Homo sapiens: one gene and its partners. The protein of the gene in region 2 purifies or fractionates together with the protein of the main gene of each other region. This does not show direct contact. Each region holds a gene or a part of one and is shown on either strand. Other genes may lie near its edges.

What was found.
Region 1: the proteins of PEAK1 (region 2) and CARNMT1 purify together in Homo sapiens (co-immunoprecipitation; one large-scale study listed by IntAct). This does not show direct contact.
Region 3: the proteins of PEAK1 (region 2) and WRAP73 purify together in Homo sapiens (co-immunoprecipitation; one large-scale study listed by IntAct). This does not show direct contact.

Annotation. Positions count from the first base shown.
Region 1 is NC_000009.12:75,018,259-75,021,912, forward strand, and holds part of CARNMT1 (carnosine N-methyltransferase), read right to left. Parts: intron 1-3,654.
Region 2 is NC_000015.10:77,112,605-77,116,258, forward strand, and holds part of PEAK1 (inactive tyrosine-protein kinase PEAK1), read right to left. Parts: intron 2,716-3,654; coding exon 1,552-2,715; 3' UTR 1-1,551. UniProt on the Homo sapiens protein: Probable catalytically inactive kinase. Scaffolding protein that regulates the cytoskeleton to control cell spreading and migration by modulating focal adhesion dynamics. Acts as a scaffold for mediating EGFR signaling.
Region 3 is NC_000001.11:3,636,586-3,640,239, forward strand, and holds part of WRAP73 (WD repeat-containing protein WRAP73), read right to left. Parts: intron 2,238-3,654; coding exon 2,165-2,237; intron 514-2,164; coding exon 410-513; intron 1-409.

The DNA of each region.
Region 1 (3,654 bases), on a different chromosome or scaffold from region 2:
TCATCATGTTGCCCAGGCTGGTCTCAAACTCCGGGGCTCAAGCAATCTGCCTGCCCTGGTCGCCCAAAGTACTGGGATTACAGACATGAGCCACCATGCCTGGCCATAAGAACATCATTTTTTAAAGTTAAATATATACTCACAGTATATCATTTTTATATTGACAAGATGGCCAAAATTTAAAATCCTGACTATATCAAATTTTGGTGATTGGTGAAAATATGGTGTAATTAGGACATTTACACACTAATGGTAAGTGCATACATCAGCGCAACCACTTTGGAAAATTAAATTTAGAGCATTACCTAGTACAACTTAGCATGGTACTTGCCTTATGACCTAGCAATTATATCCTAGAAACTCTTGCAAATGGGCCCCATGAAACATGAACAATCTTTGTCATAGCACTGTTAGAGATAAGAAACAGGTGGGCGCAGTGGCTCATCCCTGTAATCCCTTGGCACTTTGGGAGGCCAATGTGGGCGGATCACTTGAGGTCAGAAGTTCAAGACCAGCCTGGCCAACACGGTGAAACCCCATCTCTACTAAAATATAAAAATTGGCTGGGCATGGTGGCGCCCACCAGTAATCCCAGCTACTTGGAAGGCTGAGGCAGGAGAATCGCTTGAACGCGGGAGGCAGAGGCTGCAGTGAGCCGAGATTGCACCACTGCGTTCCAGCCTGGGCGACAGAGTGAGACTCCATCTCATAAAAAAAAAAAAAAAAAAAAGGAATAAAATATCTGGAAACAACCCAAAGGTCTACTATCAGAAATTATCATATAGTTACTATAGAATGAAGAAATTACAGTATAGTTATACAGTGGAATGCAGCGAAATGAGTAAATTACAGCTCATACAATAATATGTGAAGACTAAACGCTGATCTTTTTTATATTTTCTCTCTTCTCCAAGTTCTTCACTAAGAGGCCTGGGGAGTCATGCCTTACTAATTACGAAATCTCACTGGACAGGTTTTTATTAACCCTATATAATACGACTTACTTTCCAACCTGACTCTGGTATGGCATCTTATGACAAATAGCAGACTCAGAAGGAAATCAGAATATTTTACCCCAAAATATATTTGACATTTTGAAATGGCTGCCACATGGCCAACGGATTTCAATGGCCCCACAAAGCCATGTTTCCTAGGGGAAATATGCATCTGTCAAGAATCTCCATTAATGCAACCAGGCCTTCCTTTCTAGGCCTTTCCTGGATCCAGGAGAGATTAACTGAGAGCCTGATAACATTAAAGTCTAAAAAGTGACATTTAGTATCTCTTCCCTCTGAGGGCTGCTACCTAGGAGGCTTCAATTAACTTAACAAGAACCTTGGCCTTCACAAGCCCCTTAACTCAAGCATTCCTTTCTACTTACCATAGCTTACCTCTATCAACCAACTACCAGCTGAAGAATCCTTAAAACCCACCTATGACTTGTAACCCCCTCTTTAAGATGTCCTACCTTTTGAGTGAGATCAATGTATACCTTGCATGTAATTCCTGTATCTAAAATGTATAAAACCAAGCTGTAACCTGACCACCTGGGGTGCACTTTGTCAGGGTTGTTTGAGATCGTGTAACCACAGGCTGCAGTCACTATCATATTGGCCCAGAACAAACCTCTAAATATATTTTGGCAGAAATTGGTTACTCCCATCACCATCTGGATAACCTCAAGAACATATACATTTGTTGAAAACAATTGCAGTAAAATACATAATGTACAATTGCATTTCATAGAAAACTAAATATTATTTAGGGACTGAGCATATGTGGAAAAACTACACAGAAAGCAAAGAAGTAAAAATTCAGGTTAATGATTCTGAGGGTGAAAGAGACAGGATAATGTGTTTTAAAAACTAGGTGATTTATAAGTGTTCACTGTAATATTCCTTACATTTTATATCTATATATGTATGTGTATATGTTTAAATGTTCTTTGGTATTAATTCAATATTAAATGAAAATGGAAGTATTTTTCATTTTCTATTTCATTTTTCTTCTTTTTTTTTTTTTTTTTTGAGATGGAGTCTTGCTCTGTTGCCCAGGCTGGAATGCAGTAGCACGATCTCAGCTCACTGCAACCTCCCCCTCCCAGGTTCAAGCGACTCTCCTGCCTCAGCCTCCCGAGTAGCTGGGACTACAGGTGCGCGCCACCATGCCCAGCTGATTTTTGTATTTTTAGTAGAGACGGGGTTTCACCATACTGTCCAGGATGGTCTCGATCTCTTGACCTCGTGATCTGCCTGCCTCCGCCTTCCAAAGTGCTGGGATTATAGGCGTGAGCCACCGCACCCAGCCTTCATTTTCATTTTCAATTTCACTTTCATTTTCAATATCTTTGTCATTTGGTTTCTTAAATCTTCATTCATCCAAACAATTTTCTTATTTTTACCCTCTGCCAAATTATTCCAACTGCCAAACAGTAATGAACTTCAGAAGAAGCTCCTGACAAACAACCAAAAACCTGGCTGGTCGCGTTTTTACAAGCTTGTGTTTGGTGGCTTGGTGTGGGGGGCCCTTAGGGATAAGGTGAAGAGATCAAGTTGTCAGAAGCTCCACTGACATGCCCCTCTGGGGAGAGTATAATAATGAGCTTTGAAGTCAGAAAGATCAGGGATGAAATCCAGGTTATGACACCTATTTGCCACATGACACCAGGCAAATTACCGCCTTCCTTTGTCCAACTCTCTCATATACAGAAGCAAGATAAGAATGAACAATGATGATGATCATGGAAGCTGCCATTTGAGATTTAATAAATACCAGGGACTAAACCAAGTCAGTTAATACGGATTATTCTGAAAGATCTTCATAATTAGGTAGGTAGCATTACCTTCCTCTGCCTAGCAGACAGGGTTTCATTGGAAAAATAACGTACTCAAAAGATTTAGCCCAACAGCTGAAAACACAGCAAGCGCTCAAAATATATATACTATATATATACCTACTGTTCAATATACTATATAGAGTATATATACATAGTATATACATAGTATATATGTATATATACATAGTATATACATAGTATATATACTACTATATACATACCATATATATTATATATAGTATATATACTACTATACATACCATATATATTATATACATAGTATATATCTACTATATACAGTATATATACTATATACATACTATATATAGTATAAATAGTATATATAATATAAATAGTATATATAGGATAAATATATATACTATATATATATATCTACTGTTCAAAAAAGGAGTAGGTATATCTCATTTATATTACTAAAATGTTCAAAGCATGAACAATGTAGAAATTAGAAGTACTCAGGAAAGAAGGCCTAATAATTCCTCTTCTAGAGGGAACCACTTCTAACCTTTTGGCACATTTCCGTTTTGCTTAACACAAAGTTGCAGTGGCTCATGCCAGTAATCCCAGTATTTTGGGAGGCCAAGGTGGGAAGCCTGTTTGAGGCCAGGTGTTCAAAACCGGCCTGGGCAATATAGCAAGACCATCCTCTCTACAAAAAAATAAAAAAACAAAATGAGCCAGGCGTGGTGGTGCATGCCTGTAGTCTCACCTACTTGGGAGGCTGAGGTAGGAGAATTGCTTTAGCCCAGAAAGTCAAGGGGGCAGCGAGCTATGATTGTGTCACTGCACTACAGGCT
Region 2 (3,654 bases):
TAAACACATACTCACAGTTTTGAATAAAACAAGCACAGGTGAACATGTGTATACATACACACACACACACACACACACACACACACACACACACACACACAACCCCAGTGGAAGGAACGCTCATCTCTTAGCGCAAATATGTGCCAAGGGAAGAAGGGGGAGGGTTTCTGTAGACTCGCTTCAGGTGAAGTTGCAACATAAACACTGTAATATACAGCTAAAAAAATACATACAAAAATTGCACACATATCCATAGAAGGGGAGCACAGGCTGCACACATGGTGAACAGCTCTCAATCACCCACCTCAGCAATCAGAATTCCTGTGAGCTGTCCTCCAGAGCCATTTTACAGAGTCAGAAGGAGCAATGAGCCACTTAAACACTGGGAGGCAGTCTCTCTAGAAGAGGTCAACCTTCTGAGGAGGTCAGCAGTCTCATCAGTGGCCTTCTTCCTCTCCCCTGCCTACGGCCATCCCAACAGCCCACCTCACTGTGCCCTCTAAAGGAGATCTTAGAGCTCCACTGACAGCTATTTCATTCAGGGCAATTGTTTACAGCATTTGGTAAACTAGTTAACACTGGCTACTGATAGAAGGGAGCTGGCCAATTACTGCTCGGGGAAAACTGCAAATGCTGACAGTTCTGACAGTAATCAAAGGGTACTTTAAACTCTGTTTCCTGATGGCCCCTAGAGAATTGCACATGCAAGAAAATCATCTCCTCATGCCCTGCCAGCTATTTATAAGCTCTGAACTGCACTCCACCCTGCTGAGGCATTGGTGACACCACCTTGGGTCAGCTCTGTAATGGGCCACAAGTGGCTGATAAATCCAAACTTCACTGGCAAGTGGGGACAGAGTGGAGAATCAGGCAGTGGCAGCAGAGGGGAGACTATTAGGGCTGTCCTCCATGCAGTGCACATACTTACAGATAATGGCAATGAAAATGGGTCTATGACCCAAGGATGGGATCTCTCCTTTTCTTTCTACTCTCTCCTGGAACAAAAGATATAGTCCCTGGTAACCAAAACTGGGCTGATGCTAAGGATGGCAGTCCTGCCTAGTAAGTCAGTTGTTGACACCTTAAAGGAAGAGTCTGTTGTCAGAGTCTACTGGGTCGTGGTAGAGACTGGTTAAGTCTGTCTACTGCTAGTGAGAATAAATACTTGGTGCTAAAAAGATAGGTGATATCCAGAATTATGGAGGAAATGGACACAGCTCACTGGCTGAGTTCATACCAAAGAAGCTGTCCCTTCAAGAATATGGATTTTCATTTTTACCTGCATTTATGGGACTATTAGGATAGAAGGTGTTTCAAGGGAAGGCAACTGCAAGTTTGTGCAGCTGAATTTCTGTAAAGTTAAGACAGACTCAGCTTCTCATTCAATCTGGGGCAGTGGATAACCTTTCTGAATAGACCCACTTGTTCACGGACAGGGATAGAGGTTTGCCTTTCTTCTTTCCTTGAATTTGGAGTGAGCACTAGGGAGGGGAAGTGCATGGGTGACATGAAGAAGGTGAAGATGTAGTAAAAGCATCATCCAGGTACACATTAACGGTGCTGCAGAATTTTCACAATACAACTGAGGGAGTCTGTAGTGGCAAAAGCCAAATACTGAGCACAAAGCCAGTCCTCAAGGCTGATTCCACCTTCCCTGTCCAGGGACTTCTCAGCAAACTTGATCATGAGCAGTGTTCGCTTGATGTCTAGCCAGTTTTGGAGCAGGGTGTTCCTCTGTACTAGGCTAGGGCAGGCGGTGAAAGTCTGGAAGAGATCTTCGCGGGGGCCCCAGAGCAGACACTGGAGGATGCCTTTGGCGTCTGAAATGAGGATCCGCTCAGAAGGGTTGGGATTCAGGAGGCAGCTGGCCAGCTGCTGCAGACCCCGGGAGTAGGGGGAGCGGAATGGGATGCGAGGCAGGTCTGCTCGTGTGTATTCCCTCTCCTTCAGCTCTGGGTTCTCATCAAAGGGGTTGGGTAGGTGCAGCATCTCATAGATGAGGATGCCTGTCTGGAACTCATCACACTTTTTATACTGGGTAGCTGTTATGATCTCTGGGGCAAGGCGAGACTGGTCCCGGAGGATCTCGGGGTCCACCAGATGGCTCTTCTGCTTGGCCTGAGAGAAGTTGCTCACTATAAGCCTAGTGGGATAAGATGAGGTGGGGCTGGGCTCTGCAGGCCCAAAGCCTTGGGCAGTCCCCCCAGGCTGGTAGTGGACAAGTAGCAGGTTCTCTAGGCGTAGATCGCAGTGAGTGACATGGTAGGGTTTGAGGTGCTCAAGACCAGAGCATAGCTGTAAGAGCAGCAGACACACCTGCCTCTCATACAAATCAGGGCTTTTCCCATGCTGGGCCAGAGAGTCTCGCACAAAATCAGCCACAGTAAGACATGGAACCTCCCTGGTGATGACCACAACGTGGCTCCTCTGCTTCTTGCTCATGACTCCCTGATTCTCTTTCTGGGATGATGCTGCTTCAGAACAGGGCTTTGGGTTTTTCCCATCCGTTTCTCCTTTGGCGTCTTCTTCAGTCTCTTCCATGTCATCCTCATCCTTTTCAGGGTCATCTGGATCCTCCCAGGGAAGCAGACGGTTAGGGACTTCAGCAAGGAAATGACCACAGTCCTGCTGAATGTTAAAATGGACAGCCAGACTCTGCCGGACAGCCAAGCTGTGATAATACTGCTGAGATTCTTTAGCTTTGCTCTTACAGATCTGAAAGATAATAAAACAATTCAAAACTCACACTCTCATAACCAGGTTTATGATGTATCAGGGAAGATTAACTGGAAGGTGACTGGTTAGGGACAAACGATCATATAGTAAAGTTGTTCGCAAGGCTTGCCCCATGTTAAGTGGCAATAATAATGGTGGTAACCATTTCTCATGGTTGTCTACATGCCAGGCTGTGGTGAGCACTTTAAGTGTACCATTTTTAGTCCTCACATTAACCTTTCACAGTAGATTGAGGATCTAAGAATTTAAAAAAGAAAAAAAGCCCGGGGTTATGTGTGCAAACCTAAGTTTGTTTAATGCCAAAGCCTGCTCTTTCCACTATAACCTTGCACCTCATCAGAACAACAACAATGAAATAATTTTTCTCTTACTTCTGTAGAGGTTTGTAGCCCAGAATGATACAGCAGGCCAATGGACTCATAATGGAGACCAAAATACCTTATTTCATCACCCATCGCCCTTTGTGTCAACATCTCACAGCTTAGGAGAGTGATATAACATTGGCCAGGTAAACTGTGGGTTTTCCTAACTTTTCAATGAATGTCATTGTGATGGTCACAACACTGGCACTCATGGTTCACTGGTAGGGTTGAGAGAGTCACTGGTCTGACCTAGTCAGAACAAAGCCAACATTTCAATGGTGGTTTTCTGAGTTTTATGCTTTCTCTTAACAGGCCTCATTTAATACCCACTATTGAGGCAATAAAACCTTTCATAAAGAACTTTACTAAGTGGTTATGGATCAAGGAAGAATTTTTTGATCAAAAAAAGTTAGCCAAGAGTTCTACATACTGTGACGATTCTATTTCTACTCTTAAGGGGTTATCAAAGCAAAAAGTAAGTAAAACCACCCCCAAATGGGTTATTCTCATGCTATAGAGAGGCTGACCGTGGAAGACTGAGTCTCTAATACTAGTT
Region 3 (3,654 bases), on a different chromosome or scaffold from region 2:
GGAATCGTGTTCATATGTCTGCTGTGGGGGCAGTGCCCTCTGTGCCTGGGCACCTGGCAGAGCGCCCTGCCTAATGCAGGCCCTCAGTCAAGGTGAACTTCCACGTCCCCCCAACTCCCGACGTGGCACACACATGCGCAAACACCATCACACAGGACAAGGAAAAGGGCTCAAATGTGACAGCATATTCACTTTTAAAACACCTGGGCACGCGTCCTTTTCACCAAGTCTCCTGAACACACAACCGGGTGCCACTGGAAGTGATTCGCAGCGCACCTGCCCTTTGTTAATACAACATCACCTTGCTCCATATCCTACCAAAGATCCCCTGGAATCTGGAAGGATCTACTTCACTCGATCCCTCCACAGTCAGCAGGACAACTTTATTCCAGTCTGGGGGACGCCTTACCCGCAGGAGCTGCCAATCACTGCAGACGAAGATGCTCACGTAATCTTTGCAGTCGCGCCGTTCTGCCAGCGCCATGTAGCGGCCGTCCCTGGTGAAGGTGATTCCTGTGGGAAGAGGCAAATGCACTGAAATCAAGCGGCCACAAAATCAAGCAAGAGAAACCACAGTAGTAATTCACAAGGAAGGAGGAGGAAAAGAAAGCAGAGGTGAAAAGAAGGGAAATGGCACAATGCCGAGCACTGCTCCTCAGACAGACAAGAACATTCTAGCGCAGAGGAGAAACCCAAGGCACGGTGCCTTCACCCTCACAACGCAGTGTGTGCTGGGGGAAGCTGTACACACACAGGAGCCGGTTTGCAAGGCTCTGTCAAAAATACCAAGTGATGTGACCTCTGATTAATCACAAATATGAGTGAGAAACACAGGCCTTCGAGTCCCCCCATGTCTAAGCTGCGGGACACCCAGGGCTATCTCCAGCTAGGCAAAAGGCAGCTGGTTCCTACCATATTTATTTTACCTTTGAATTTAATTATTTGGAAGAAGTAAACTGAAGATGAAAATGTGTGGCCAGGCATGGTGGCTCACGCCTGTAATCCCGGCACTTTGGGAGGCTGAAGCAGGTGAATCGCTTGAGCCTAGGAATTTGAAAGGAGCCCAGACAACTTGGTGAAACCCCATCTCTACAAAATATCAGCCGGCTGTGATGGTGTGTGCCTGTAGTCCCAGCTACTCAGGAGGCTGAGGTGAGAGGATCACTTAAGCCCAGGAGGTCGAGGCTGCACTGAGCTGTGATCGTGTCACTGCACTCCAGCCTGGGTGACAGAGCAAGACCCTGTCTCAAAAAAGTAATAATAAGATGAAAATGTGGAAGAAACTTTAGTTGAAAATGTTAAACTCTTATTTTCCAGTTCTGTATTAGCTTAAAAAGCCCTAGGCCAGAATTCATCATTCCTGAGTGAAAAGAATACCTCAAATGACGAAACCACGGTGTCCACTCCTATCAAGAGATATGTATCTCATCTGGAGGGACGCTAATATTCCAACTATAAGAATAAGAGTGTGACTGCATTGCATTCAAATGCAATTTCCAAACCGCTGGCAGCAACAGAGAAAAATGAAAGCATCATTCCAACTGTGTATGTTTCATTCCGCAAAAAGACAGTGCGGTGTCGTCCAGGACTCAGGAGTGGCACCTCCCACTAGCTCTGCGCGGTCCAGTTAGACGCGCTGGCAGTGGGCCACCCTGCGCCGGCCCCCTTTCTTCCAGATGGCTCACAGGCTTCCACAAGGAAGGGACACTGGTCACATATCCCTCTGGGATGCCCAGAGATGACAGGCAAGACCTCCCCCTTTCGCAGACATCATATTTAGTCCACAGAAGAGAGAAAGCTCAGAACTGGATGCCTGAGGTGGGCCTCTCAACAGGCATCGGCTGGAAGGGGTCTGAACGCCCAGCTCTGCCGCCAAGGTCAAGGGGACCGGCATCAACGCCACCGTTCTTCCATGTCTTAGGCCACGTTGTCTTGAGTCACTGTGGTCATGTTTTAAAAGGGGACTCTTGCCTTTTTGAGACACATATGGAAATATTTACAGATGAAGTATGAGGAGACCTAAGGTCTCCTTTAAAAGAGCCCAAGGGGGTTGGCTATGTGTTGATATGCTGCTGAAGCTACTTCTGCCTCTTTGAAACTTCCCGTGACAAAAAAGTCAAACAGCTGCAAAGAAATGGCTTTTGCGTGGCTCCGATCGACTCACCCTGCAGACAAGCTTTCGGGTATTTGATGTAAGACACGGATTTTGTGCACAAGGACCAGACGGTTATCCGCAGCTGTTGGGGGAAAGGGGAAAGAGAAAGGAAACACTTCTTTAGCATCATCAGAGACCGTCTCAATCCTCAACCCGCCCACGCGTCCCCAAGCACAGGCCTGACTGCTGGAGTGGATCTATCAGGACCTGGGGGATGCCTGCCCTCCTACCGGAATATTCAAATGCGTATTTTACTGTGGTTACGGTAAATTTGGTGTTCTTGGTTTTCTGTTGTTGTTGTTTTATACCAAAATTGAGTGACACAAAGTTAAATCCAAGTGCTTTTTCATTAGCTTTTTCAAAGTGACCATAGGTTGCATGTTATAATAACCCTGAGTTACTCAGAGAAAAATCTTGATCTAGAAACCACCACGGGTTCAGTCTCCTTTATGGGAAGACAGAGGATCTGGAGATTGGATGCAGCCACTCCGGGACTCACCAGGGGGCTGTGAGCCTGCATCTGCAGCCCTGAGGCAGGAGCAGCCACTCAACACCCAAGAAGGTGTCCGTCTGCCTCCTGCGTGTGCTCGCTGGCCTGGCTGCATCTGCAGAGGGTTCTAGAACATGCGCTGCTGGACTGTCCACTTTTCCACCCCTTTCCCTGACTCAGGGAGCTGAGAGCTGACTAGGCTGGCACAGTGAGGCCAAAAGATGATTTTCTAACCAGGCCGACGAGGGCGTGCCTGCTGAGGGAGAGGCACCGCAGTGGGTGGTCCAGCCCTCCCCGTGGCAGCGCCGCGGGACTTCCAGGGCTGCTGTGTCCCTCCACCTGCATTTCCCACTGAGACCCCGTGGAGCCTACCAGGGAATCATCTTGCTTCCCACATCCCCGGCCCACTGATGAATCTGGTAGTTAACTGAAATATGGCCGAGGTGCGGGGACACAAGGTGCGGGGTGGGGTGCTGACTGCCAGCTCCGTGTGTGGGGACACAGGGCTGCGCAGCTCCATGTGGGGTGGGGTGCTGACTGCCAGCTCCGTGTGTGGGGACACAGGGCTGCGCAGCTCCATGCGGGGTGGGGTGCTGACTGCCAGCTCCGTGTGTGTCAGGCAGGGGTCCTCGCTGAGGATGAGGCCCGGGGTGGGGGACCGTCTCCAGCAGCGTAAGTGGGGCCGCAGCGTGTGGGGCACAGCATGTCCACAGTGTCACTCCTGCAAACGCTGCCAGGTTGTCAGTATAGGATATTAACAAATGATTTAATTTAAATGTCTACGCATCATCTCTTCTTACAACAGAAAAGAAAATCTGATGTCTGTAATTGTTTCTCCAAACAACATATACAGCGTTCAGGAGAGAAGTCCTGAACACACAGGTAGTGGATCAACGAGCTCCAGGGGTCACGTGGCAGCACGGAAGGGCTCCTGTGCTGATGCTGAACCCGAAACACACTGGCCGTTCTGGGGACCATGCCTCGGAACTCCAGCTGCACAGAGCACTTG